5 linked regions of the Homo sapiens genome follow. The protein of the gene in region 4 purifies or fractionates together with the protein of the main gene of each other region. This does not show direct contact. Each region holds a gene or a part of one and is shown on either strand. Other genes may lie near its edges.

Region 1 (5,312 bases), on a different chromosome or scaffold from region 4:
GGCACGGCCTTGCATGTTTCTGAATGGGTTACTCTTCTAAAATTATTTTCAAGGTATGAAGGCATTTACCTTGGAGTGTCAAGTGGCTCGTGGTTTTCTGTTTTCACAGTATTCAGGCTTAGATGTGGTAGTAGTCCTTTCTGCTGGCTACCTGTAGGGCGTGCTGGCCACGGGAAGAACTGTGCTTTCTGGACTGATGGGCCCTGGGAACTGGGGGTCAGGGAGAGGAGGACGGGGTGAGCAGTAGCAGTTGGTGATAGAAAATTGAAAGAGCGAAGCTATGATTTAATTCCTGCTGGAATGGTGTGTCAGTGTGGAAGAGGAAAATAAAGAGCTGTCAGAAGTTAGACGGTCTCAAAGGTCTCTTTGCTCACAGGAGTGACTATGAGGAAATGCCGCTGCAGAACGGCCAGGCCATCCGGGCCAAGTACAAGGAGGAGTCAGATAGTGACTGAGCCCCGGCCAGCCCAGCGAGGCGACAAGATGCCTGGATGCTTTCCCCGGTGACCGTCTGCTGACCTTCCCCTGTTATATTCAGATTTTTCTTACAAGCAGAGATTTCCTGTTCATTTGTTTACATATTTTTTTAAAGGAAAACCAAAACTGAGGGTAAATTTAAATGTTTAGCCAAATTTATTGTCATGGTGGCTACGAGAAGAGGCATTGATAACAAGTTTCAACAGCCAAATCCTTTTTTACAGAGATTTCAGATGAGCGTGTTTTCAGTGATGAGGAAATTTCACGTTTTTAGTACAGTGAATTATGTACTTTTTTTTCCTGTAATCATTCACTGATTCCAAGTTCACGGGCAGCCTGTGACTAGGTCCTCAGCGTGACAGCATCACCCTCTTTCTTCCCTTTTCCATGGTACTGTTTTGTGACCCTTTAAACTCAAAGGGAAGCCTTATCTGTGGCTGCTTCAGGGCAGTCCTTCCTCGTTGAGTGGCCAGTGCCCTGGGTAACCAGGTGGCTGAAGTGATTGGTCAGTTATGTGGACTGCGTTTTGTGCAGTGTGTGAGTTATGACTCATCGGGAATGGGAGATGCTGGGGTTCCAACCCTTCACGTCACCAAAGGGGAAGTAATAGTGTGGAGTTCTGAGGAGGGTTTGATAAGTTGAATAAGGAAAGGCTAAGATAATTTACAGGTTACCAACTCATGTGGGGAAGGTCTTACTGCCATGGTGCTTTTCAGGGGCCTGTGTGTACACACATGATTAAATGGATTTGCCTGTGGGAGGTATGGGCAGGAGAGGAACCCTTACCATTCCAGTAAATAGCAGTTTCTGCAATTCTGTTGAATATGAAATGCCATAGAGCTTTATTTATTTATGTAAGTAAAAGCTAAATGAGGGGCCAGGTGCAGTGGCTCACATCTGTAATCTCAACACTTTGGGAGGCCAAGGTGGGAGGATCACTTGAGCCCAGGAGTTTGAGACCAGCCTGGGCAACACAGGGAGACCCCGTCTCTATAAAACATTTAGAAAGTTGGCTGGGCATGCTGGGGCATGCCCATAGTCCCAGCTACTCAGGAGGCTGAGGTGGGAGGATTGCTTGAGCCCTGGAGGTCAAGGCTGCAGTGAGCCATGATTGCACCACTGCACTCCAGCCTGGGTGTCAGAGCGAGAACCCGTGTCATAAATAAATAAAGCTACATGAAAGATTGATAGAATATTTTAGATTATTTATTGGCCAAAAGTTTTTAAAACTCATATTTGGAAGCAAAATGAAAAGCAAGTAAAATGTTTTAAATGGTTCATGGAAAACGTATTTGGGTAGAAGGCAACTCGTGCTTCCGGAAGGGGTTCCCTGTCCTCCATGTGTCCACATGGCGGTCAGGTAGGGACGACCTGTTCTGTAAAGTCCTTGGCACTGCTGAATCTGTGGCATCATAGAAGGCCCTGGAGCTTCCCCGTTCCTTTCAGTCAGGGACTCCATATAGAGTCTCATGTGGACGTCTCCCGTGCTTTCCTCTTGACCTCTACAGTCACACTTCTGTTAACATCTGGTAACTGTGGGCAACCTGACTGATGCCGTCTTGGCAATTGAGGTCCAGAAGATGATAGTTCCGCAACGCAAGCAGTACCTACTTTTTTTCTTCATCTATGCATTGACTCTCAGATTACCATGCAGAGCTTCACGTTATCATCCACGTTAAGTAGTGCTAGGTAGGACCTTAGAGATGTTCATGAGAAACTATTTGTTATGACTTTCCTTTGTATCTTTCCTTTTAATTTAAACTTTAATGATAATGTACTTTTAATATGGATTCTATTCACATTTGTTTTAAAAACCTTGTAAATATGAATGTTTAAGACAACTTACTGCAAGGGTAATTCAAGTTTACATGATTTTTAAATTTGCAATGATGTTTTTTTTATTCTGTGTATTGAAAAAAATTTTCTGTTACCAAATTTTACAACTTCTAATAAGACTACTATAACTTTATGTAAACTGATGAAGATGTGCTGATTAACATATTCTGTGATATGGTTTACAACTTTTAATCATAATTGTCCATGATTTTGGAATGCTGTTATTTATCAGTAAATGTAAAATATTTGAGGCATTTAGCCATACACACACTAGAACTTTTTAAAACTTTGTCCTATAGTGTAATTATAAACTGATGACTATTATCTTCATACATTGAGTCTTCATGCATCAATGAAATGAAAAATATAGGATTATTTATTTACTTTTTGTAACTAAGTGGGAAATAAGAAAAAAAGTTAGAAAGTACTTAAGGGGAAAATCGTTCTTACTAAGTCATGTATTTTCAACTTGTCTTCCCTGGTATATCATAAATACCGACATATTACATACCCCATGTAAAATTTTGCTTAAACTCTCTAGCACTTGGCATGTAGAATATGTACCATAGGTATCAGGTTAAAACACTAAAGTCTGCCAGAAACTTTTGACAGTAGCAAGAAAATTGTTGAAGAAAAAATAAATTATTTACTGAGGGTAGTTATGTTAAAGTTTTGCGAACTTAAAGGGCTGACTTTAGTTCCTTCATGGTAATGGCTTGAGTAACATCATCTTTGGGATTTTTTAAATACTGGTCCAGTCTAGGAGAACCTGGAAGATGACCAGAGGTATTTCAGTTTCCCTAGGGAGAGCTTCGTTATCCATGTGGATGATAAGTCTGCTTGATTTATTATTAAATCATTATAGCAGTGAAGTGGTGCCATTTTCTCTCTCTTAAGCCCCATTTGAAAGGCTAGAGAAGGGGATATATATACTATGTTCAAGGTTTGTAAGGTTGTTAATGTACATAATTGCAGATTGCAATAAAAGCTTAGATACATTTTGTAAACCCAACCCACTAAATGAGCAGGTTACAAGACAAATGTCACCAGCCTCAAGTATTTTATGAACTATTTACTGAGGGTAGTTATGTTAAATAGATTATAATGTGGTAAATTATTTCCTGAATCCTTTATCACAGGAAAAACACAGACCCTCATAAAAGGGATAATTAAAACGGATGTGTCTGAACATTTAGTGAAGATGAGACTTAAAACATGAAAGTGTATTTGTGTATTTTGAGGGTTTTAGAAACCGGTTGCCTTAGAGGTTAGACTTTTGAAGAAAAAAAAAAAAAGATACAGATCTTTTCCCCTGGCCAAAGGGAAGTTGTATTAGTCTGTGACATCTTGTGATGCTGTTTATCTTGGTTTGACATTGGAGATACGCTAGTAACTGTGATACCATACTATAAAACAGAAGAATTTTCTGCTACTAAAAACTGCCTTTTTACAAAATGACTGTAAATATTTGTAAAATAAAATAACACTAAACTTTAAGCCCAAAAGGAGAGATAGAGCCATGTGTTCAGTTGTGGACCTGTCCGTGGGGCACAGTGCCACCCCATCACAGTGTTGCTGTCATCAGGCAAAAGTGAATGTTTGTTTATGGCAAATTCGTCTTTTGCGAATGGCTTAATTCTGACACTACCTTTCTGGGAAATGTTAATAAATTTTTAATATTCACTTCTATGTGTCTTGATTTGTTTGCTCTTTGTGTGTGGAGTTAATTTGGCCTTGCAGACATAAATGCTTTAATAAAGCGGCTTTGGAGACAACGGCAGGGCTTTTCCATTTCAGCAGGCAGGCACGGAGGTATCTTTATTGCCATGTCTAATGTGGCCTGGGGAAGAGCACTCAAGATGGAGACAAGGCGTGGGTTTGGGCCCAGCTCCCAACTTGGATGTGTGACTTTAAACCAATCAGATAACCTCCAAACACATTTTCTGAGATTTTTAAATGACTGCAAATTGTTGAAGACACAGAATGAATGATTGTGAAAACCATTTTGTAAGCTCTGAAGTACTAAGACAATTTGTGAGCCCTACAGAGAACACAGGATTAACAGTTAAGGTGTTACAGCTTTGGGCCAAGTGTGAGTTAGAGCTCTCTGGCTAAGAGAATAGAAATTGGTTTGCCCACCTCCCACCCCTTCACCTCTAGAAGAGGAGGGCTTAAGAATGGGAGGTGTGATGCCGAGGGGTAGGAATCTAACCAGAACCCAGCAGAGCCGTCAGGATCCTGGTCCCACGGGTAAAATGAGTACATCATGGAGAGGACCACAGCAGAACTTTTTTTTTTTTGGTTGTATATATATATATATATATTTTTTTTTTTTTTTTTTTTTTTTTTTTTTGAGGCGGACTCTTGCTCTTGTCACCCAGGCTGGAGTGCAGTGGCGGGAACTTGGCTCACGATCTTGGCTCACTACAACCTCTGCCTCCTGGGTTCATGCCACTCTCCTGCCTCAGCCTCCCGAGTAGCTGGGACTACAGGCGCCCGCCACCACACCTGGCTAATTTTTGGTATTTTTAGTAGAGACGGGGTTTCACCGTGTTAGACAGGATGGTCTTGATCTCCTGACCTCATGATCCGCCTGCCTCAGCCTCCCAAAGTGGTGGGATTACAGGTGTGAGCCACTGCGCCTGGTCTGGTTGTATAGATTCTGTAGCCACTCACTATGAAGAAATCGTTTATGATACTATGCAGACTATGAAGAACACAACAGACTTTAGATTTGAATAATTTATTCTAACAAAAGTATAAAGTATGGAAAATTAGTGTATTTGAATCATTTCAGAGAGTAGAGCAAGTTTCACACTAGCAGATTTCAGATTTTAGCACCTTTGAAATGAAATATTCAGAGTTAAGACAAGTGGCAACGCAGGCTGCAGGTGACCTACAGGGATACTCATCTGACTTCGGTGCCATTCACATCACAGTGCGGTCATTTGGTTTTTTCCTCTACATTGTGAAAGTGCCACAAAACAAAGAGAATGAGA
Region 2 (5,973 bases), on a different chromosome or scaffold from region 4:
CAAGTGGCCCCCGTCTCCCCTTCACCCAGGTTCACTAGCCGTGTTAAGCCCCCCACCCCCTCTTCTCGCCGAGTGTCTTTTTCCAGAACCATCGGAGAGTAGGTTGGAGGCTGTATGCCCCCTTACCTCCAAATACTCAGTGGGTGTTTTTCAGAAACGAGGACATTTTCTTACATAACCATAATGCTGTTATCAAAATGAGAAAATTTGGCATTGACATAATACTGTTATCTAAGCTGGCACTTTCCTATAAATCAAAATATGCAAGGCACACATGCAATTTAAAATTTTTTAGTGGCTGCATTAATACAAGTAACAAGAAATTGGTGAAATTATTTTTAATAATGTATTTTATTTGACCTCATATATCAAAAATGGGATCATTTCAAGTGTTATTGATGAGGTTTTTTTTTTGTTTTTTTTGCTAGCAAGTATTAGAAATCTGGAATGTATTTTATACTTGCATCCCAATTTGGACTCACCCCATGTCAAGGGCGGGATGGACAGCCATGCGTGCTGAGTGGCTGCCGTGGACAGAGTGGGTAGCACAGTGCATGTTCAAGTTCAGAAGTGCTTTTGAGAAAGTACAGGAGCATGAATGGATGGAGGGTGGATGGGGTGGGTGTGGGGGACGGTGCTGCCACCCGAGGAAGTGACAGCTGAACTGAGATCTGACTGAAGGGCTGAAGTCTGGTGGATGAAGATGCCAGAGGAGACTGTTCTTAGGCAGAGGGAGCAGTGATGCAAAGGGCCTGGGGCAGGAGTGAGTGTGCTTAGGAACTGCAGGGAGGCCCTGGGCACAGGAAGTTGGGGCAGGGCTGAGCAGAGCTTATGCAGGGGCTAGATAAGGTCAATGAATCCTAATGGTAGGTTAGACTAGAAAGGGTCACAGATTTTCAGCAGGGGCATGATATATTCTGTTCTTTTTTTAATTTCATAACTTTCAAAAACAATTTTATTTTTAGAGACTGGGTCTCACTATGTTCCCCAGGCTGGTCTCACACTCCTGGGCTCAAGTGATCCTCCCACCTCGGCCTCCCAAAGTGCTGGGATTACAGGTGTGAGCCATAATGCCTGGCCTCTGTTCTTTTGTAAAACTCCATCTGGCCACGGCTAATACATTGATGTGGGTGGGGAGGCAGAGTCGGAGCGGAGAGGCCTGTTAGGAGGTCGCTGCAGCTCCGCGGGTGAGAGATGGGGGCGGTTTGGACCCGGGAGGTGGTAGCGCCCGTGGGGAGAAGTGGCTGGATCTGGGCAGCCTTTGGCAGGGCCTGGCTCTGGCCGCCGGGTCTGGGTGTCCCCTCTCATCCTGTCTGTCCCCTGCAGATCCATGAAGCTAATGTACAAGGAGTCAGGGGTGTTTGAAGGCATCCCCACCTATCGCTTCGTGGCTCCCAAAACCCTGTTTGCCAACGGGTCCATCTACCCACCCAACGAAGGCTTCTGCCCGTGCCTGGAGTCTGGAATTCAGAACGTCAGCACCTGCAGGTTCAGTACGTGCCGTCCCCTGTGCTGGGATGGCGGGAGGGTGTGAGGGTGGGGCCAGCTGAGGGTTTATCTGCCCAGTGCTGTCTGCTTAATCTCTGGCCTCTGTACTCTTGATAATCCCATTAGGCGAAGATAATGAGGCCGCAGGAAGATAATCTGAAAAGGAAGAAATGCCAGGTCTATTAGTTGCTGTCACAATATATTGCCATGAACTTCAGGGCTTAGAACAACACACACTGGTTATCTTGCAGTTCTGTAGTCAGAAGTCTGCGTGGGTCTCACCGCGCTCAGAACAAGGCGGCTGTGTTCCTTCTGGAGGCTCTAGGAGAAGCTGCGTCTGCCTTTTCTGGCTTCCAGAGGCCCCTCTGTGTTTCTTGGCTCCCGGGCCCTTCCTCCACCTTTGAGGCCAGCAACATGGCATCCTTCTGATCCACTCTGTCCTCATATCTCTTCCTCTCCTCCCTCTTCTGCCCCCTCTTCCAGTTCTAAGGACCCTTAAGACCACATCGTGCTCTCCTGGATACCCCAGGACAATCTCCCCATCTTGTTTATTATTATTTTTTTTGAGACAGACTCTCACTCTGTTACCCAGGTTGGAGTGCAGTGGCGCCATTTCAGCTCACTGCAACCTCCGCCTCCCAGGTTCAAGTGATCCTCCCACCTCAGCCTCCCGAGTAGTTGGGACCACAGGCGTGCACCACCACACCTGGCTAATTTTTTGTATTTTTGGTAGAGATGGGGGTTTCACCATGTTGCCCAGGCTGGTCTTGAACTCCTGACCTCAAGTGATCTGCCTGCCTCGGCCTCCCAAAGTGCTGGGATTATAGGTGTGAGCCACCGCGCCCAGCCTATTTTTATATTTTGAGACAAGGTATCACTCTGTAGCCTGGAGCTGGAGTATAGTGGTGCGATTATAGCTCACTGCAGCCTCGACCTCATGGGCTCAAGCGATCTTCCTGCCTCAGCCTCCTGAGTAGCTGGGACCGCAGGTGTGGGCCATGATACCTAGCTAATTTTATTTTTGTAAAGTTTTTATAGAGATGTTGTTTCACCATGTTGCCCAGGCTGGTCTCAAACACCTGGCCTCAAGTGATCCACCTGCCTCTGCGTGTTAAAGCAATGGGATTACAGGTGTGAGCCACTGTGCCCGGCCCAATTTCTGGACCTTCAAGGCAGCTGCTGAGCAGGCCCAGCGCCCGTTTACCCTGTGACCTGACATAGTCATGGGTTCTGGGGCTTAGGGCATGTACGTGTCCTAAATGACATGAAATGAGGCTGGCGAGGGTCTGTGTGTTACGTAACATCTTCTCGTTCCGCAGTGTGGGTGGCTAGGCAGATGTGATGACTGCTGTTGGCGTCGGTCCCCTGACATTGTTGGTGTGTCTCAATTGTGTGCCAGTCCCTGAGACACCCCCACCTCAAGTTGCTCAGTTTGGACCCTCGGGCGTCAGTTTGTTTCCCTGTCCTCACCCAGCTCTTCCAGTGCGTCAACAAGCCCAGATGGCTTTACCTCCAGGTTGAGTCCTCACTCCTTCCTCTCTCTTGCTCCCCACCCCAACCCCCGCCTCATTGTCCAGGCCACGGACACGTCCTTCCTGGTGATCCAGCCCTTTCAGTAGCCCATCCCTCAATGCAGTGTTGCCGCCTTACCATCCATCCCCTAGACCATCCAGTGCGGTCACTGCTGGCCTCTTGCGGCTGTTTAAATTGAAATTGATTTAAACGAAATCAAATTAAAAGGCAGTTCCTTGGTTGCACCGGCCGGAAGTTAAATGCTCATAAGCCATGTGTGTCTAGCAGCTACTGTCTTGGATAGCACAGATAGAGAACATTTCCATCATCATAGGAAGTTCTGTAGCACTCCCGACAGCAGCGGAGGGATCTTTTAACAATGCAGGCCGAGTGTGGTGGTTCACGCCTGTAATCACAACCCTGTAGGAGGCCGAGGTGGGAGGATCACTTCAGGCCAAGAGTTCGAGACCAGCCTGGGCAATATAGCAAGACCTCTCTCTGGCCAAAAAAAAAAAAAAAAAAAAAAAATTAGCTAGGCATGGTGGTGCATGCCTGTAGTCCTAGCTACGTGGAAAGCTGGGGTGGAAGGATGGCCTAAGCCCAGAGGTCAAGGCTGCAGTGAGCTGTGATCACCCCACTGCACTCCAGCCTGGGCAACAGAGGAAGACCCATCTCGAAAAATATGCAGATGGCCGCCGTCCTCTTAAAATGTCTGGCAGCTCTGTCTGCATTCATAGTGAAGTCCAAACTCCCACCATGGCCCTGGGCCCTGCAGGATCCAGCCCCTACCGGCCTCTCTGAAGGATCCAGCCCCACCAGCCTCTCTGACTCCATTTCTCCCTACACGTCCCCTGTTCATTATTCTCCAGCCCTGATGCCTTCGCCCTTTTTCTAAAGTATACCAAGGTCAGTGCCTTGCACTGTGGTTTGCATGGGTTGCTTCCCCTGCTTGGAGAGCTCTTTGTCTGGATTTCTGAGTGGATCATCCCTCACCTTCTTTTGGCCTGCATGCAAATGCCACCTCCTCCGGGAGGCCTCCTCTGATTTCCTGTTCTAAAGTTGCCCCCTCTCCCACCTGCTGCTCCCTATGGCTTCCTCTTCTTGTCTTCTTGTCTTGGTCTTCTTGTCTTCCTCTTCTTGTCTTGGTGCTCATTGCTCCCTGAACTCATGGACTGTGGATTTTATTCATTGCCCCTTCCATTCACTGTCATCCCTGTAGGCAGGGCCCCAAGCTCCTCTTGTTGGTTTTATTCTTAGCTTCTAGAACTGTGCCCCGCATGTAATGGGTACTCATACAGTATTTGAATATAGGGATGGTGAGTGCGTTCTGTACTTAGGAAATTGAGGCCTGATGCTGGATGCGACCAAGGTCACAGGGTTGGTAGGACCGGAAGCGGCCCTCTATTTGACTGTGTCTTGCCTTCTGGGAGCCTTTTTGGTTGAAGCCCCGTCCTCCAGCTGGCAATGGCGACTCTAAAGGACTGGTCTGCAACAGGGGTCAGGAGGAGGGGCTGTCAACAGATTGGATGCTTTCCCCTATTTCAGGCAGAATGGAACAACCTGTGAATGAATGGTTTGGAGCTGGGGCCTGGGACGCCCGCTGCTGTCTCCTGGTCCTGTCTGGCCCGTCTGGGCATTGGCCTCTGCTTGCTTCATTCTTTGCTGGTATCGGCGGGGATTTCTGCTCCTAAGGTTGAGGATGTTACACACCCAATAGGTGTGCTACAGCAACTGTCGCAAGTGGCAGATGCTGGACTCCACCTGATTTAGGCCAAAAGGGCACTTCTTGGTTTGCGTAATGAAAAATTCCAGGGCAGATCTCTGCATTAGGCACAAATCCAGAACTTAGATGTTGTCTGGAAGCTGCCTCTGCCAAGTCCCAGCTCAGTTTTCTGCTGGACTGGCTTTGCTGCCAAGCAGGCTCTCCCTCCTGGCTGCCTGTGGAGGCTCCAGGCTCACCTCCGCCCAGCTCCGAGTCCTGCAGAAAGGGGGCCACCTGTGTTTCCTTCACTCCAGCAGAAGTTCCAGGGTTTGCTCTAATTGGTCTGCCTGGCTCCCATGCCCAGCTGTAAACCAATCACAGTAGCCGAGGTGGACTATGCTGATTGGCCAGGCTTGTGTCACATGCTCAGATGGCTCCTGGGTGGGCCGGCCCCACTCCAAGCACAAGGCTGAAAGTAGGGAAGGCTTAAAGTGGGGGTGTAGGTACCAGGAGAAGGGGGAGAAACGACATGCCCATCCCCTCCAAGGGCGTGGGACGAGGTGTGTCCCGCCTTCTCTTAGCACATCTGCCAAAAGAATTTCAAAAGCGCAAAGGAATTTTAAAATCTTTATTTAAATAGAGTTTTTTCTTATATTTATTTATATTTTTGAGACAGGGTTTCTCTGTTGCCCAGGCTCAAGTGCAGTGGTGCAATCACAGCTCACAGCAGCCTTGACCTCCTGGGCACAAATGATTCTCCCACCTCAGCCTCCCAGGTAGCTGGGAGCACAGGTACACACCACCATACCTGGCTAATTTATTTTATCTTATTTCAATTTTTTTTTTTTTTTTTTTTTTTTTTGTAGAGGTGGGGTTGTGCCGTCTTGCCCGGGCTTAGTTTTTGCTTCTAAATAAAATATACATAGATACAAAGAAGTTCCCAGATGACTCATGCAGTTTTTGGGGTTTTTTGCTTTGTTTTTTGAGACAGGGTATCACTGTCGCCCAGGCTGGAGTGCAGTGGTGCCATCATGGCTCACAGCAGTCTGACCTCCATCACTCAATTGATCCTCTTACCCCAGCCTCCTGAGTAGCTGGGACTACAAGCGGTTGCTACCATGCCCAGCTAATTCTTAAATTTTTTTTAAGAGACGGGGTCTCACCATATTGCCCAGGCTAGTCTTGAAGTCCTGGGCTCAAGTGATCCTCCCGCCCAAAGTGCTGGGATTACAGGCATGAACCGCTGCGCCTGGCTGACACCTGCAGTTTGA
Region 3 (5,973 bases), about 26 Mb from region 4:
AGATTATTGTCAGGAATTGGCACCAGGTGTTTCTGGCACATAGTGGAGATCAGATGAAACTTATTGAAGGAAGGCAATGTAAGTTTAAAGTTTACTTAAGAAAGTCAAGTTCAACTCCAAAGAGATTAATCTGATCAGTACATAAACCAGGTTTCCTTTTGCTGTTTGGCTTTATACTGTGTCCTCTCTATGCATGTCTTTGTTAATTATTATATTTCTGTATTGACTGAAAGGCAGTTTGGATAGTGAAAAGATATAGTAAAGTGAAGAAATTTTGATATTTGAAATGATTTTAATTGTATCAATTATGCTTTTTTTTTTCTTCTTTGAGATACGGAATTTTTGAACGATGTAAAGAGTTGGTAGAAGCAGGATATGATGTCAGGCAACCAGATAAAGAAAATGTGTCGCTTCTTCATTGGGCTGCTATTAACAACAGACTGGATCTTGTAAAGTAAGATGGGATATGTGTGTTAATTGTGTATTTATAATTTTAGACCTCTCCTTCATTTATCTTTTTCTTTAAGTATGGGTATTGAACCATGTGTAATCCTCGTGTAAAAGAACACCCGAAACTTTTTCTGCCACACACGTTGGTTATTATAAAGTTGAAAGGGACCTTAGAGACCATGCCTGGTTGATCCAAAAGGGAAAATTAGAGATAAAGCCAAGGGGGCCAATCATAAAGTTTAGAAAGTAAAAGTGAACATTTTTTAAAAAAGGAAAAGTATAATAAACTTTTTCAGAAGAGAATGGGAAGTCTCATCTAGTTTAGAAGAAGCATTGAAATATTTTACATTTTAATACCACGAAGAATAGATAGGTAGGAGATTTAACCTTTTAAAAAAACTAAATATGGAATATACTTTTAAGTGGGCATGTATTGGATTGTATAAAATATTTCCCCTTCATAAAGCACTACTGCCTACCCATTGTTTCTTTTAAACAGCTTAACATGTAAAATGTACATGTGTATGTGAATGTGTATATATTTTGTGTTATAGGATTAGATATTTAAAATCCTCAAAGTTTAAGAAATTTATTAAGGTTTAAAATGTTCTAACACACATGAATACTCACAGGCAAACTCCTCTTCTGTGGAAATAAACTGGCATGGTATTTAGATAATATGATGTATGAAGCTCAACTTTGAAGTAATGAGACTAATTCCTATAAACCATAGAAGAAAATCAGTCTTATTACCTTATATGTCCACCTTATACAGTGCCTCTCATCTCCGTACCCTAAATACAGGGCAAAACACTCAAAATGTCTAACTTTTCCAAAAGGATTTTAAATTAATTCTTTACTACTTACTTTTAAAATTCATTCCCACATAGTAATTCTACTTTTAAACTGTTGAAGGTGACATAACTTTACCTTTCTCCTTCCAGTCAAGTAAGAATATCTGTCTGATCCTAAACCTTTTGAATATAAACAATTTCAAGAGTGCTGCGGTAGTTAGACTATGCAGAGAGTAGTTATGATGTATTTGATATGTAAGTTATAATGGAATGCTAATTACAGCAGGACTAATTACTTACATCCTAAGGATGTTTCATCAGGGATTTGTCTGATTCTGCCATGTGAACCTTTCATATTTCTATAGATCTGGGTGTTTTAGGGATTATTACTATCATAATTTGTTCTCCAACATATTTATTACTATGAAAAAATTAGTATTTTCTTTCTCAATATGAAGCTTAAGTTTCAAATCTTACTTTCATTTGTGTCTGCTTTTAACAGGTTTTATATTTCAAAAGGTGCTGTTGTAGATCAGTTGGGTGGAGATTTAAATTCAACTCCTCTTCACTGGGCCATCCGGTAAGGTTTCTTTGAACACTGAAATTAAATAGCCACATATAGCTAGTGGTCACCATATAAAAAATCAGTTATAGACGATTTGAAAGGCTGTCTTTTCTTCCCCCCCCCCCTTTATTTAAAAATAAATTTCAGCTTTAAAGAGTTTGCAGAAAGGATGTTTTCGATATTTAATTTAGGGCTTCATTATGATTATCCAACTCAAATATGTGTTTTATAGTTTCTTTTTTGTAATTAGAATAAATAATTTTCATACTTGGTAACATAAATAAAAATAGTAGTTCAGTGAAGTGCAAACTCATTCAGTTCAGGCTTATGACAGATGTCTATTTAGAAATTTACGATTTTATTTCAGAGGTGAGTTTCCTCTTAAATGTGAAGTATATCTCTATATCTTAGGGCCAATTGAGTCAACTCTTTTAAAAGTTGTTGCAGGATTAACAAGAAATTTTGAGTATATCAACTTAGAACATTTATATTGTGTGGTCACTCTCCTTTTTTCTCTGTTGTATATTGGCCATCTGAAACTGAAGTTAGTAAGTCTTGAATACTTATCAGTTTCTTTTATTAATTTAAACTCCACTCTCGGTGGTTGGTGGGGTTGACAGGAATCTGAAACTGAAGTGAATAATTGTTCATGTAAGTCAAGGAGTTGAATCTTTTCTCCATAGCTAAGAGTTTTGAAACTCTAGGGTTACTTCATGCCCTTTAAGCTACTGAGGTACAGTACTTTACATGAAAAATGAACCATAGTCAAGCATAAGAAAAGCATATGAATATATAGCTCTTAATATTATCACAGTAAACCCATAGTTTATGAATATTATATTTCTGTATATCTGGCTTATGATTTTTTGATTTTAAAATGACAGTGACATCTAAGTGGTCTTAGAATCTTCATTGTTACCATGTCATAAAGAATTATTATTCACGTATGGTAATGTGTGAAGGTCAGGTTTAGGGTAGATTGGGAAGTTATCAAGTTTATCACTTGCACTCAAGAATGATTATCCAGGCCGGGTGCAGTGGCTCATGCCTGTAATCCCAGCACTTTGGGAGGCCCAGGCAGGCAGATCATGAGGTCAGGAGATCGAGACCATCCTGGCTAACACAATGAAACCCCATCTCTACTAAAAATACAAAAAATTAGGTGGGCATGGTGGCATGCGCCTGTAGTCCCCGCTGAGGCAGGAGAACCGCTTGAACCTGGGAGGCAGATGTTGCAGTGAGCTGAGATCGTGCCACTGCACTCCAGCCTGGGTCACAGAGCGAGACTCCATCTCAAAAACAAAAAACAAAAAACAAAAAAAAACGAGAATGATTATCCATATAGTTCTAAGTTTGCAGCATCTAAGTTAAAAACGTTTGGACAATCACCATTGTTTCAAAAATCTTACTGTTAGGAAATATTTTTTATATGTAACCAAAATCCCTCATGTCTTAGGAATATCAGTCTCTCCCTGACTTTTTGCTTTTTCTGCATGCTACAGAATGGCTTTTTGTCTTCTATTTGCAGACAAGGACATTTACCTATGGTCATATTATTACTCCAGCATGGTGCAGACCCCACTCTTATTGATGGAGAGGGATTCAGCAGCATCCACCTGGCAGTATTGTTTCAACACATGCCTATTATAGCATATCTCATCTCAAAGGGACAGGTATGTTCTGAAATGTGTCTTATACTCCAGTTTTTATCATCTGAAGAGGTTGGGGAAATTATTAGTAGTAGTCTCTTCTCATTTTTAAAGTGGAGGTTAATGGATATCCAGATATTCAGATATTAGCCTCAGTACGTTTAGCCATTGAATACTGCTTTTCAGCTTCATTGGAGGGAAAAGGACAGGTCATTTAGCTCAGTAACGTATAATAGATGTTTCTGAAACTTGTAAGCTGGTAATAGTTTTTCTTATGAACCCAGTAATTTGCAGAGTTTCTCAAAAACATGACTTCAAAGCCTGTATTTTTCTTCTAGTTGAATATAAAAATGGTAGTCAAATCACTAAATTAACCCATCATTTGCTTTCATTATTTGAGCCCAAATGGGAGGCCAATTTGAATATATGTTTCTTATTGTTCTCTAAAGTAATTCCATGAAAATTGACTTGCCTTGAGAGGCACAGGTTAAATTATAGGTTATTGTAAGTTTCACTGTCAATTATACTTGCCTGGAATATGTTTTCTGGTAGCAAAGTAGTTTATGTATTAGCAGACTTGCCTGTAAAAGGCATGAAAACGTGTTTGCACAAATGCTGTTGGAATGATTGTGCTCCCTTTAAATAAGCACTTTCTCTCAGACTTAGCTGATTGAAGTAGAATTATAACCTCCTAGGTTTCATTGTTGGAAAAATATAAATATATGAGGAAGAGTCCTGTCTGCTTCTCTTTGGGTGCCTTCCCAAGTCCTGTTCCTCCAAGGCCCATAAGAATCTTCAGAAGCTGAAACTGTTTTTCTTTGGCTTAGCTGAAACCATTGCTGTATACCTTAAACCTAGACCTGTCTTATTAAAAGGACTGTATCCTCATGGAAATATGATTTCCTTTTTTTTTCTGTGTTCCAGAAAATAGAAAGGAAATTTTCATATTTTACTATTTAAAACTTAATATGATAAGTCCAGAAAGACAAGTTGCCTCAGAAGATAGGGAGTTCACTATTTACTGGAAGTGTTTGAGTAGGTACTGAATGACTTTGTATAAGAAATGATAATGCGAATTAATGTGTCAACTAAGGTCTCAACTAGGTGACTTTTAAGGTCTCTACCATCTCTTGTATTTGATGGTAGCTATCAACATTTTACTCTTTCCCTTAACTGTGTTCACATCATATAACACTTTACATTATATATTCAGATTTTCTTTTTAAAAATATTCTGTGGAAATCCATGGATTTTTACCCTATGGAAGTGAGCAAAACATTCTTTTTATCAAATGATATTTGAGCCCTTTATGTAGAAATAATGGTAGTATTGAATGTATTAAAGAGATATTTCTATTAAGAGAACAAATAGACTTTTGAGTGTATTTACAGTTATGCTAATTGTCTTCTTTTTGAATAGAGTGTGAATATGACAGATGTAAATGGGCAGACACCTCTCATGTTATCAGCTCACAAAGTAATTGGGTGAGTTTAATTTAGTCCACTCAATCTCATTCTTGGTTCCAACTATTTCTTTTCTGTGTATGTAATTTTAAGTATCTGTGTCTATGTGAGATGATAGTACATTGAAGAAAATAAGATTTTTCACACAGAGACTGTGATAATTGACTTTTAAGGTAGTTATAGTTAGAAAAGCAGCCTTGAAATACATTTTCTCTTTTCTGATAGCTTTGGCAAAAAGTTTGAAAGCTACTAATAAGAAAAAAATTTCCTTACCTATCAAGTAGATATACCTTGAAATATACTTGTTAACATGACTTGTATTTCTTCCTTTGGCTTTAAAAAAATGGCTATAATTTTAAATGTTCTCATAATTTGAAATCTAAGTGATAAATCTGCTTTCTGGAAAATATTAAATTTTGAGATTCTCTGACATCATTCTTGACTACTTTGAAAATATCATTAACTGAAAAGAGTCTGTATGTTCAGATCAGGCACTTACATATTCAAGTTTTTCTGTGTATTTATTTCTATAAACACATGATTAATGACCACTGTATAGTTCAACTTCTGGTATTTATCTAGGCAGATACTTACGACAGTTCTCACTTTAGCAGTTTGTTTCTATGTTGTATTGAATCTCTGATTTTGCTTGTACTTAGGACTTCTAGGAACTGTGTTAGTTCTAATGCTATTTCCTTTTTGTTCATGGAATGGTAGGACTGGAGGTAGAATTTTATTAAAAAGCATTTTCTCTTCTGTGCTGGTAAATCTGAAGTCAGGTATAATCTCTATAAAGATATTGATAGAATAAATAAAGTAGAATATTGTTTTATTAAAAGAATCTCTTCAGTGGTCATGAAGGAAGGAAAGGTATTGGTAAAGTAAAAATATTTTACTGAATTCTGTCTTCTAGTCCGTAACTTTCTAAGATATACAAATATTTTAGGGCATAATTTATACCTGCTTTATTTAACAGTTGATTTGATGGAGAGTATGAAGTTAGCTCCTCAACTAAGACATACATTTAGTCTTTAATTGAATAAATAGCATAG
Region 4 (5,973 bases):
ACCCCAACACAATTTAAGAGAAACCCTTGGGGCACTGTTGGAAGGACAAAGGCTTGGAGCCTGGAGTCCCTGGGTCAGGTTCACCCCATGATTTTTTCCCTTGCATTCCTCACCAGGTAACTTGGTGCCTCAGTTTCCCCTTCCTAGTAAGAGAAGAAGGAGGATGTCCCAGGTGGGCTCTGAGTGTCTTCCCCTCCTGACTTTGATGCTGAGTGGCCCCGCCTGTGCCTCCCCTGCTCAGCATTTTTCCAAGTTGCAATAGGGACCAGTAGAGCAGCAAGGAGGAGGTGTCCCTTTAGGGAGGAAAGCCCTCCGGCCCCAGGGCCAGTGCCAAATCCAAAGCCGATGTGCCTGTCAGACCTTCCTCTTGGGCTCCAGGCACCTTAGCCATGTCTGCCTGGCCAAGCTCAGCTGGTGGACAGACATCTGGCACCTTGGCAGAAACAACGAGAGGAGGGACGCAAGGCACCACCCCTGAGACCAGGAACCTTTCCTGTGTCGACTCCCCACCAGCTGGCTCTGTCTGTGCTCCTCTCTCCATGGATTCAAATGCACTTAAAAACAAACAAACAAACAAACAAAAACACCTCTAGCTCAGACCAAAATGCAGCCTGGAGTGGTGCTGTCATCACTGATTAGGAGAGGGGTGGAGTGGCCCAGCAGGTGAGAGGCAGGCACCGCTCTGCTCCATCTGTTCCTTATGATACGAGGGTGCTGGTCTGGCTGCTGAGGAGAGTGTTGGATTGTGGTTTTGGGCGAGGGCGAGGAGGGGACAGAGTTGCTGAGGCCTATTATGTGCCATGGGCCTTGTCAGTGCTTCCTACAAGCTGTGTGGCCTTGGACAAATCCCTTAACCCTTCTGAGGGCTGGGCTGATGGAAGGATGTGTGGTCATCAGAGTACATACCTCCTTGGTGGTTACAAGGATTAAACGAGATAATATGCGCAAAACCCTGGGCACAGTGCTGGATCCCCAAACAGTGGCTACGATTATTACTGTTTTCCTGACTTCATTTTAAATTGATGAATAATAATTGTATATGTTTATGGAGTCCAATGTGATGCTTTGATACACATTTTACTATTATTAATATTAATAATAAGCCTCCCAGAAACCCTTTGAGTCAGACTTAGCAACCTTATTTTGTGGAAGAAGAAGATAGAGTACAGCCATGTCCTGTGGGAGGAAGCGGGAGCTGCAGAAAGTAATCAGACACCATCTCCCCTACATCCATCCACACCCCAACACATATTCCCAGAACCCTTTGCACTGAGTCCTGTCATGGAGGTACAAACCCCCTGCTGGAAGCACCTGCAGTGCCGGCAGCTCAGGACTGGCTTGAGTTCTGGCCCTTCCCCTTACTAGCTGTGGGACATCGGACATGTCGTTTTCATTCTGAGTCTCGGTTTCCCCACCTGTCTCATGGATCTCTAATCCCTGCCCTGAGTCTCTCCTCAGAGCCGTTATGAAGAAAATGTGAAAATAACGAATATGGAATGTAAACATGTCTTGTGCACCTTGAGGTCTGACTCATGAGAGCAGATGCTGTCAGTTTCCCCTGGGGGATGGGGGACATTTGCATCTCAGTGCAGCCCCGGCTGTGCCTGGCAAGCAGCGGATGCTCAATCAATGTTGGCTGAATGGAATTGTGTTCAATGACTTGCTGCCATGGGTATACTTTTAGGTGAAGACAGGAAGGGCTCCCAGGGAGGTGGGATGCTAGAGGTCTCAGAGTAGAGGTAGCCAAGGCTCAGGGAGGCTTTGGCCCCAGAAGCAGGTTTTAGATCCCCAGGTAGGCTGCTCTCCTTTTCCCTGCAACACCCCATCTCGCTGGCACCAAGCAACCGCCCTGGTCTGTTCTGTGGCTGGAGGGTGTGTGGGTTGGTGGGAAGTTTGTCAGGCCTGGCTTCTGGTCCAGGCTCTGGGCCTTGGTTTTCTCATCTATGAAATGGCCAGCTCACACCTGCAGTAGAGCAACAACGTGAAGCGGGACTGCTGAGCACTTACCACGTGCCCGACGATGTGCTAAGCATGTTACTGTGGGATTTCAGTTCATCTTCACAACACTGCTAGGAGGAAGGTTCTGTTCCTAATCTCCGCTTTAAAGTCAGAGAGAGCAAGACTCAGAGAGGTAGAGTAATTTGCCCAAGGTCACATAGCGAATGAAAGCTAGAGCCAAGGCTGAAACCCAGGCAGGCTGGCTCCAGCATGCTCATCTCTATCATCGGCCTCCATCTTCTTCCAGCCTTTGCAAGGGTGGGGCTGGCTGCGGGGAACCCCTGGGGAGGGGCTGGGGTTCTTCCTGGGTGGGGTCCCCCATCGGGAAGACTGAGGTGGCCTTGTATTTCTAGGTGGAGCACCATGGAAGGCGACTGTCTGAGCTGCATGAAGTATCTGATGTTTGTATTCAATTTCTTCATATTTGTAAGTATTCCTGGGTCTTCCCAGGCCTCTGCTGGGTGGGCAGAACTGGCTGCTGCTTTGAAATAGTCACACTGGGCTGAGTCCCTGGGGCGAGCACAGGGGCCGGCGCTAGAGGCAGGGGTACCTGCCAGCCAGGCTTTCATGGAAGGGGGCCCCCAGCAGTGCCCACCCCACTCTGAAGAGCCCACCTTCTTAGGAGAGACATTTTACACAGGCCCTGGGGTGGGTCAGCCCCTCTCAAAAAGGTGGAGGGGACCTAGGTCCGGCCACTGTCTTGGGATCTGACCCCTCGTGGAGAGTGGGAAAGGAGGGGATGGGGGTGATCAGAGGGCAGCAAGAGGGAGCCCCACCCAACCTTATCTCCCTGAGCAGTTGACGGACTTCAGACCTGGAGGGGCCGAGTCCATGTAGCCACCGGATATAATCAGAAACCTCTCTGGGAATGCAAGACCTGCATTCAAATTCCAGTGCTGCATCTTAGCAGCTTGTGATTTGAGACACATTTCACCTCTCTGAACCTCAGTATCTTCATCTCTTAATGACCTTCCTCAACAGGCTTTTTGAAAATTAAGCAAGATTAGTTTACAAAGTACCCTGGATGTGGGCAGTCCTCAATAGCTTAGCTCCATTTCCATCTAGCCTATGGATTCTGTATATGAAGGGACAGCCCCGGACATTCAGGTGGCCGGCCCACCTGCTGGCGGCCCACCCACATGCTGAGCCCACCCACCTGCTGGTGACCCACTGAAGGCTCTGCTCAGACTCATGGCCCCTCCCAGGAGTAGAGCTGTGGCCCTGGATTCTTGGGCCCCCACAGGCTTTCCTGGTCCAGCCTCAGGCTTTGATCTTAGTACAGCCAAGACCTGGGTGAATAAACCTCCACTCATGTCCTTCAGGGCAGGCTCTTGAAAGAGGGGTCCTCTTTCTGGCCAGGACTGACCGTCTGTCTCTCTCAGTGTCTATCTTTCCCTCTCTATCTCTACCTCTATATCTTTGTGTCTTTTTAAAAAATATACACTTCAGCAACTCTCTTAGCTTCTCTTCCCTGCCTTATAATCCTAAAAAGCCTCAAGCCTTGCAGACTTGAATTCTAGACCCAAGGTCACCACCTTCCAAGCCGGGTGACCCTGAGCCAGCTCATCCTTCCTCCAGCCCCAGTGTTCCCACCCGAAATGGAGCTGGGCCCTCCTTGAAGTGTTTAGCATGCAGTTGCTGAATCCCCAAATCTCCAACAGCAATAAGGAGGCACAGATTTTCCTGGAGGTTGTGCGGGAGACCAACGAGAGAGACACAGGCTGGGTGCAGTGGCTCACATCTGTAATCCCAGCACTTTGGGAGGCAGAGGCGGGTGGATCACCTGAGGTCAGGAGTTCGAGACCAACCTGGCCAACATGTTGAAACCCCATCTCTACTAAAAATACAAAAAGTAGCCATGCGTGGTAGCGGGTGCCTGTAATCCCAGCTACTCGGGAGGCTGAGGCAGGAGAATCGTTTGTACCTGCGAGGCAGAGGTTGTGGTGAGCCGAGATCGTGCCACTGCACTCCAGCCTGGGCAACAGAGTGAAACTCCGTCTCAGAAAAAAAAAAAAAAGGAGAGAGACACTGCACAGCAGATGGCAAAAATGGAAACCCTGTCGCTGGCCATGCCTGTTAAGTCTTTCCTTCTCTTTCCCCTGCTGGGTCCTTCAGGCCTCTCCACTGGACTCCTGCCCTAAGGTCGCCTACAAATGCCCCTTGCCCAAAGCCATCAGCTCTCTTCAGCTTGCAGTCCTGCTCAGCCAAGCCAAAGCCCAGCAGTTTTCCTGTCGCCCAGCTGTCAACCCTCACACAGGCCTCTTGGGCCTCCGGTCCTCCCACCACACAAAGGGATTTCAAATACTTTACAGCCCGCAAATCCCATGGTGCCAAACTTTGGTTCTTCCCACAACAGATCTGCTTCTAATACTTATCTGTGCCCAAGAAAAATGGAATAGGCTGGGCGCAGTGGCTCACACCTGTAATCCCAACATTTTGGGAGGCCAAGGCAGGAGGATCACTTGAGCCCAGGAGTTTGAGACCAGCCTGGGCAACATGGCAAAATTCAGTCTCTATAGAAAAATACAAAAATTAGCCGGGTGTAGTGGCATGTGCCTGTAGTCCCAGTTACTTGGGAGGCTGAGGTAGAGGATGACTTGGGCCCAGGAGGTCAAGGCTGCAGTGAGATGTGATCCCGCCACTGCACTCCAGCCTGGGTAGCAGAGCAAGACTGTCTCAAAAAAGAAAGAAAGAGAGAGAGAGAGAGAGAGAAAGGAGAAAGAAAGAAAGAAAGAAAGAAAGAAAGAAAGAAAGAAAGAAAGAAAGAAAGAAAGAAAAAGAAAAATGGAGCAGATATTTATTGAAATCTGCTAAACGCCTTCTATCCTTTCTTCCTTAGGGCTGCCTTAGGATGAAGGTGTTTGAGTCTTCTTTTGACCACAAGGAAGCTAAAAGGCTCAGACAGATTTTGACACTTGCCTAGGGTCACACAACTAATAAGTGGCACAGCTCTCTCTCTAGACTACGCTGCCTCTTTCCAAAGATAAATAAGGCATAGAGAGCCCATGTTGATGGAGACATAAATAAGAAATCTTTTGAGCTATGGATTTGAGAGTGGGGAGCCCACTCTCAAGTTGGAACCTCACTGAGAGTCCCATGGGGGACAATGACGATGACTTGGTCTGTGTCTTCCCAGCCCCTAGCATGGGTGGTGCAAACACAGCATAGGGCTGACTCAGAGCATGTTCATGGACCTTTGTTTAGGGTGTTGAGGCTGGAGTCAGGGGGCCTGCGACCAAACTCTGACTCTGCCATGAACTTGCTGTGTGACCTTCAGCAAGTTGTTGGTTCCCTCTGTATGGAATCAGAGGGTTGGACTAGATGACCTCCTAATCCTACAGGTCTGACATTTCAAGAGAAGATAAAATTGGCAAATAGCCTTTATGTGATACAGCCCGAGGTGGGGCTTGGGTCGGAAATTGGATTTAGAGGATGCGTGTTGCACTTAAGGTCACGGCAGCTAGAAAAATTAAAAGCAATTCAAGGTGCGGCTGGGACTCACTGGCTCTCGCCGCAGGTGAATTCCTGCCTGGCTCACCTAGTGCTTGATGCCTCTGACCCTGGGGCTGGCTCAGGGGAGTGGTGGGTCAGAAGTGCCTAACCTCCCTTTCTGCCTGTTTCTCCTCCCAACTCCTCCACTGGCCCGAGCAGCTGGGCGGGGCCTGCCTGCTGGCCATCGGCATCTGGGTCATGGTGGACCCCACCGGCTTCCGGGAGATCGTGGCTGCCAATCCTCTGCTCCTCACGGGCGCCTACATCCTCCTGGCCATGGGGGGCCTGCTCTTTCTGCTCGGCTTCCTGGGCTGCTGCGGGGCCGTCCGTGAGAACAAGTGTCTGCTGCTATTTGTGAGTACCCCAGCCCCCACCCCATCCATGGGTGCTCTGAGGGGTGTCAGGGATTGGCTGCAGACTCCCAGGCCCTGCCTGGCTTCCATTCAGACCAGTGCTTCCCAAACTGGGGCGGGCTGTCAAAGC
Region 5 (5,973 bases), on a different chromosome or scaffold from region 4:
CCTTTCGGGTCTGGCCAGACCTGCCTAGGTGAGGTTGCTGGACCTCAAAAGGTCATGAGGACTCCGTGCCCACCCACAATGCCTCCTTTCTTCTTAATACAACTCTCCTACTCCCAGAGGCCTTCTCAAAAGGATGTCTCCTTTTTCTGGCCTGTTCCTCATACTTTAGAAAGGAAAGGGCCCTGGAAAGCATGTCATTTAAATCTCCAATTTTATAGATAAGACACTGAGACCAAGGGAAGGAAAAGGGCCTGTCCAAAATCTAAATTTCCTCTCCCAGCACCTGTCTACATGACATAGTCCTGCACTTCACATGCTAATCTTTATGGACTTGAGGCTGAAGATGGTTATCTTGGCTTTTTTGGTTTCTTCTTGGCTCTAATCTCCCCACAACTGCTAGCACCATGCCAGAGACATAATAGTTACTCCATCTGCTTTGCCGATTAGACCCAAACTACAACATAACAGATGGACTTTTGTCTATTTTTTGTATATTCTGGTAAATGTATGACATTTTAAAGACATTATTGATTTTCAAATTGTTTTCAAACAAAATCCATTTTTTAATTAAATATCTAAAGTACTAAATTGTTCTGTTCTACCATAAGCTCTGTGAGACAGAGAATGATGTCTCTTCCCTGGAATATAATGAACAGTTTCACAAAATCTTGCTTAATGAATGACAGAAAAAAACGGATGGCTATTCTTTTAATGTCATTACATACTACCTCAGTTGATGACTGATATCCATGAAAGACAAGCTCTAGCATTTTAATTGCCCCATAGCACTGATCTAAAATTATTATTAAGTGATGTTAATTCTGAATAGCCTTTTGTACTACCTGAGAACTTACAGCTTTGTAAGGACTCCAACACCATGTTCGACATCCATGCAAAGATGCTAATTAATACTACTGGAATTCTACAGATATTGTAATGGTAGATTTCTCCCCCTCTTCTATGAAATAGCTAAGATGGTACCACAGCTCTCAAAGACAGCTGAAGAAATGTATCCTCAGCTAAGTAAAACTGAGCCCAACAGCTTAGAGCCTGATGAACCACACGACCAGTACTGACCACTGGCTGTAACAGTCCATTCTGCTTAATGCCTCAGCCTATATCACAAGCCTGTTGTGTCATTTTGCCTCACTGCAAAATCAAGGAGAAGAAAGAGGGAAAGCGTGGGCTTGTGAGGCATGATCAGGTACACACACTCTATAGTTACAGCTCTTTCAAAATAGAGCCACCTTTTAAAAACAAATGGGAATAAAAGAAAGCTTTTCCCACAATTAAAAAAAAATAGAATGACCAAAAAAAGCTTTTCTCCATCTAAACAAACACTTTTTAGTCCTTTCCCATCAATGATATGCTACTGGATTTGAGATGATAATTAATTACTCTTCCAGATGCCTCAGCCTGCTCCCATCCTGCTCAGCTTTGCAGGGATTCCCAATATGGCAATGAAAGGCCCCTCTGCAATCTAGCCACAAGACCTACCCCTGGTGAATAAAACACCTCAGGGATGTAGAAATCTGTTCTTCTCCCAATGGGTGTGGTACCCCCGGCCCAATCACTCATCCAAACTGAAAATTTTAGAGATGCTAAAAGTCTAGGGTACAACATGAATATGATCAGATTCTTTGACTTGTATAGCCATGGACCCTGACCTCTCAACCCCATTCTGTGCATGCTGGCCAGCATGATACTTAGTGATGAAGAAGGGGGCTAGTGCTATTTCTTTGGGCCCAGTTCTGAATTCCCTCTACAGAACAAATGGCACACTAGAGTTGGCTACAAACAGAGGAAATTTGGCCTAAGAAAAGCCTGCAGAATTTGGGACTTTTAACAGCTTGTGAGCAACAATGTTTGGATACACTTTCAAAAATGGTCTCAGAAATTCTAAAATGAGCAGGACCCTGAGTGACTGCAAACAACATACTGGCAGACAGATGGATGAAATCCAATTTCTGATTTTTTTTAAAGAAATATTATTCTTAATAAACAACTTGAGCCTTTCACCAGCCAAGCTCTCTCTCTCTCTCTCTCTTTGTCCTCTCCAGGCAACGTGATCACGGTTGTTTCTATTCAGCAGTTATATATCACCCAAGCACTTAACCATCCGCGGAGGCAGAGAAGCATCCCAAATGTAGCACTGGAAGCAGGATTCAGAGTCTTGGCTTGCAGCCACAATAGCCTCTGATACCTCCCTAATGTGGATGAATGGCTGTGAGTCAGTAGGTGGTTCCTGTCGCAGCTGAAGGCTCCTACTGAAGCTCATCCAACCAGGCCTCAGCCCGCTCCCATCCTGCTCAGCTTTGCAGGGATTCCCAACATGGCAATGAAAGACCCCTCTGCAATCTAGCCACAAAACCTATCCCCAGTGAATAGAAAGCCTTAGGGATGTAGAAATCCGTTCTTCTCCCAATGGGTGTGGTAATCCTGGCCCAAAAACTCATCCAAACTCACATGTTGTAAAATGACTGACGATGATAATGATGTAGGTGATAACAACAACAGCCAACATTTATTGTGTTCATTCACTTTGTGGGAATGACTAACTCAAGACCTCACTGTGGTTTTGCAAAAAACCCTTGTTCATCAAGGTGCAGTCAACAGAGCAAGGGTTGTGGAGTCAGACAGAAGTGCAGTCAGATTCCTGCTGTGCCGCTAAAAAAACTCAGTGACCCCGGGGAAGCCCTTTAGCCTTTTTGGGCTTCATTCTCATCTGATAAATGGGGATCCTTTTGTCCACTCTGGCCTCTTGCTGAAGATGGTGCAGGTTTACAGAGGAATACCAGAGATAAGGGATATGAACGCTTATCATAAACTGGAGTGCACTCTCTACACAGGATCTGGTCGAGGGTCACATGGCTGGTTAGTGGCTGGCCTAGAACTAAGGCCCAGCTGTCTGAACTCCCAGGCCAGAAAGGTGGAACTGTTGTTCCCCTCAGTTGAGAGGAGCACAGAGACCACCAGCTGGCATGGAGAGGCTGTTTGACACAGGAACTCCCAAAAGCAGACTCTCCCATTTCCAGACACCAGCTTCTCACCCCCACATTTCACCATCGGTGCAGCTGCCTTTACCTCTAAATTTTTGCCTCGCACAGACACATACAACAGTCACATACACACACTCTCTCATTCTCACACACACATGCACACCTTAGCTCTTACAGATTATCAGAACTCACAGAACTGGTCCTGCAACCTCCTAGGGGATCTGTCAACATCCAGAGAAATTCTGGAACCCCTAGGCTATCCCTATTCTTCAAAGTGAATATTTCTGGAGGTGGGCAGGAATGAATGAAATAAAAAGGTGCCCTTGAGGTAGCAATGCATTTCTCTAGCAAGTTTTATTTCATTTTTGCAAACACCGTAAAATCCAGTAACTGTGACTTTTTAGAACATGGTTGCTCTTTGATTAGACTAGATGCTACTGTAGTATCACCCTTTTAATAACCAAGAAAATCCTATGTCATTTCAAATAATTTTGCTTCAATTTGGGACAATCCAAGAGGCTTTGAGGGGTTCTGGTTATCTTCTGGAGAATGCGGGAAGGAATCTGCCAGAGGACAGTAGCCACCAAACAGATAATCTAGACCACATTAATAATGTGTGTTTATAGACATCATACTCTGACCTACATGTTCAAAAGGATCAGTAAAGGCACATGTGCCCCATGGAACTCCAGACAAGGCCATGGCTTTCATGGTGACCAAGACCTTGTTTTCACTTCTCTGCTATAGTCATGGCTGTGGAATTCTACTTTTGCCCAGAAGAGCTTTTTAAATATTACCACCTCTCAATACACCTACAAGGTCTGTCAGTATGAGAAATTCTTTTCAATATTGCCAAATTGTTTGGGAACTTATTAAACACCAGAATATTGTTGTGACAATGACTTACACAATTGTACCAATGGATTGAGGTCCTGGGGCTAAGGTTTTCTTGGGGTGGAAGAAAAAATTTGTTAGTATTGGAAAGGAAATACAAGTTTGGCAGATTCTGACACAATTCCAGCATTTGAGAAAGGACAGTGTAAACTGAGAGAAGAGAGAGTGAAGAGGAGAGCCAGGGGGTGATGTTCCCCTTAAATCTCAATGGTAATCTGAAAGTCAGAGGGCTCTAGGGCTCTATTTGCTGCAGTTGGACAGAAAAATCCACACTGGTTGTTGCGTTCTAACAGTCACCTGCAAAGCATCCCCTTGTCCAGGGTACCAAGTGCACCCGGGGGATGGGGATGGGACACAGACATGTCCTTGCCGGCCCAGAGACCCCATCCAGAGGCCTCCAGGCCATGAAACTCACCTTGTGCACCCCCTGGACTCCCTGCTTCAGCCCAGATTTGTTTTAAGGAGACTTGCGAAACAGTAGCCCTGGCTGGACTAACTGCACCCCATAGCACTCACTTCCCCCACCCCACCACCACCCACTTTACAGTACTGCATGACCTCTAGCAACTGGACATCGCGTCTGGAGGGAGGAAAATACCCTTGCTTCTGGCTACAGACTATTAATAAATCAGCTTTTACCGCATCAGCCCAGGCTCACAGAACATGGGCTGGCAGCGCCCCATGCTGGGGCTCAAGCTTTTTAAATATTTTTTGTAAATCAGGAGAGGCTCCTGGTGACTGAACCCCACATGGGGTCCAGGGCACCATCCCAGCCCGCCCTTCGGTCCGCGGGGTGCCCCCCGCCACTCCCAAAGAGCCACGGATGCCTCTCATGCAGCCAGTAGTGATAAGCAAGCCTGGGAACCATGAGCTCTCCTTGGATGTCGGAAAATAGCGACAGAGGGACACCCAGTCGCCCGGGAAGACCAGAGCCAGAGCGGGGAAGGAGCGAGGTGATAAAAGTCCGGCAAGAAGAGAAAAACAGAAAGGGTAAGAGAGAAAAAGAATAAAAGCGAGAGAGGGGAATGGAAAGAAGGAAACAGCGAGCAAACAGGAGCAGACAACATCTAGGACACAAGAGAGAAAGAGGGAGAACAAGGCAAATAGACGAAATAGGGGGGAAAGCGGGGGGAGGGAAGAATGCGGGCGCCGAAAGGAGGAAGAGAGCGCTGAAAGGAGACTTCGGAACCCGGGTGCAGAGTAGAAGAAAGCAGGGATCCAGAGACGCTGCACGGAGAGCGCGGCTCTTTAGGGCTCTCCAGTGCGGAGACTGAGTACGATGCCCCGTCCCAGCGGCCCCGTTCCGGCCGCTCGGCCGCCTCCCCCGCACGCTCTGCCAACCATCACGCAGGCCACCCTGCGGACAGACAGACGGTCAGTCCGGGGCCGGAGCGGAAAGCCTTTCTGTGGCCGCCACAGCGCGGCGAACGTGCGCTACTGGGCGCCCAGCACCTGCCCAGCCGGGGTGCAAACGCCCGGGCGTCAGGGTGCGCGCTAGGTCCCCGGCTTGGGCCAGCCGCGCCTCCCAGCCCTCCGCCCGCCTAGGCCCGGGTCCCGCTCGACTACCGGCGCGCACTCACCTGGACGGTCTCAGCCTGGCGTCGCGCTTGCCGTCCACCACGGAGGGCACACAGCTGGTGAGCTCGGTCCAGTCGGCGTGCAACCCGCAGCTCCAGCCCGTGGAGAACCTGGAGAAGAGCCAGGTTTCCCGCTTACCCGGCCGGTGGCAAGTGCATTTCTTCTGACCCACGCGGCACTCGCACGGCTGCTCCAGCTGGATGTTACGCACCAAGTGGCGGCCGAAAGTGGTGCCCCCGGTCTTCTGGATGTGCAGGAACACGATCAGGTCATCGCCCTTGATGTCGAAGTCTACCTTGCGCAGGAGGTCGCCGCGGGTGAAATTGTAGCGGGGCACGAACCTGGCGGAGCTCTCATCCTCCGAGCGGTACGGGTCCGGCACCGGGGAGCTGAACGCCTGCAGGCGGAGGAGCTGGCATTCTGTGCCGGGGCACACGTATTGGAGGACGATCACGGCAAATAGGAAGAGCATCACCAAAGCTAGCAGCAGCTTGTTGGATTT

What was found.
Region 1: the proteins of TSPAN18 (region 4) and TMEM181 purify together in Homo sapiens (affinity purification with mass spectrometry; one large-scale study listed by BioGRID and IntAct). This does not show direct contact.
Region 2: the proteins of TSPAN18 (region 4) and SCARB1 purify together in Homo sapiens (affinity purification with mass spectrometry; one large-scale study listed by BioGRID and IntAct). This does not show direct contact.
Region 3: the proteins of TSPAN18 (region 4) and ZDHHC13 purify together in Homo sapiens (affinity purification with mass spectrometry; one large-scale study listed by BioGRID and IntAct). This does not show direct contact.
Region 5: the proteins of TSPAN18 (region 4) and HS6ST2 purify together in Homo sapiens (affinity purification with mass spectrometry; one large-scale study listed by BioGRID and IntAct). This does not show direct contact.

The regions. Positions count from the first base shown.
Region 1 is NC_000006.12:158,631,434-158,636,745, forward strand, and holds the end of TMEM181 (transmembrane protein 181), read left to right. Parts: exon of another isoform or gene 1-53; intron 54-376; coding exon 377-455; 3' UTR 456-3,996; downstream 3,997-5,312.
Region 2 is NC_000012.12:124,803,281-124,809,253, reverse strand, and holds part of SCARB1 (scavenger receptor class B member 1), read left to right. Parts: intron 1-1,326; coding exon 1,327-1,493; intron 1,494-5,973. UniProt on the Homo sapiens protein: Receptor for different ligands such as phospholipids, cholesterol ester, lipoproteins, phosphatidylserine and apoptotic cells. Receptor for HDL, mediating selective uptake of cholesteryl ether and HDL-dependent cholesterol efflux.
Region 3 is NC_000011.10:19,145,850-19,151,822, forward strand, and holds part of ZDHHC13 (palmitoyltransferase ZDHHC13), read left to right. Parts: intron 1-331; coding exon 332-454; intron 455-1,746; coding exon 1,747-1,824; intron 1,825-3,337; coding exon 3,338-3,482; intron 3,483-4,877; coding exon 4,878-4,942; intron 4,943-5,973. UniProt on the Homo sapiens protein: Palmitoyltransferase that could catalyze the addition of palmitate onto various protein substrates. Palmitoyltransferase for HTT and GAD2. May play a role in Mg(2+) transport.
Region 4 is NC_000011.10:44,904,056-44,910,028, forward strand, and holds part of TSPAN18 (tetraspanin-18), read left to right. Parts: intron 1-2,351; coding exon of another isoform or gene 2,352-2,361; coding exon 2,362-2,424; intron 2,425-5,649; coding exon 5,650-5,844; intron 5,845-5,973. UniProt on the Homo sapiens protein: Plays a role in the cell surface localization of ORAI1 and may participate in the regulation of Ca(2+) signaling and the VWF release in response to inflammatory stimuli.
Region 5 is NC_000023.11:132,951,335-132,957,307, forward strand, and holds part of HS6ST2 (heparan-sulfate 6-O-sulfotransferase 2), read right to left. Parts: coding exon 5,474-5,973; intron 1-5,473. UniProt on the Homo sapiens protein: 6-O-sulfation enzyme which catalyzes the transfer of sulfate from 3'-phosphoadenosine 5'-phosphosulfate (PAPS) to position 6 of the N-sulfoglucosamine residue (GlcNS) of heparan sulfate.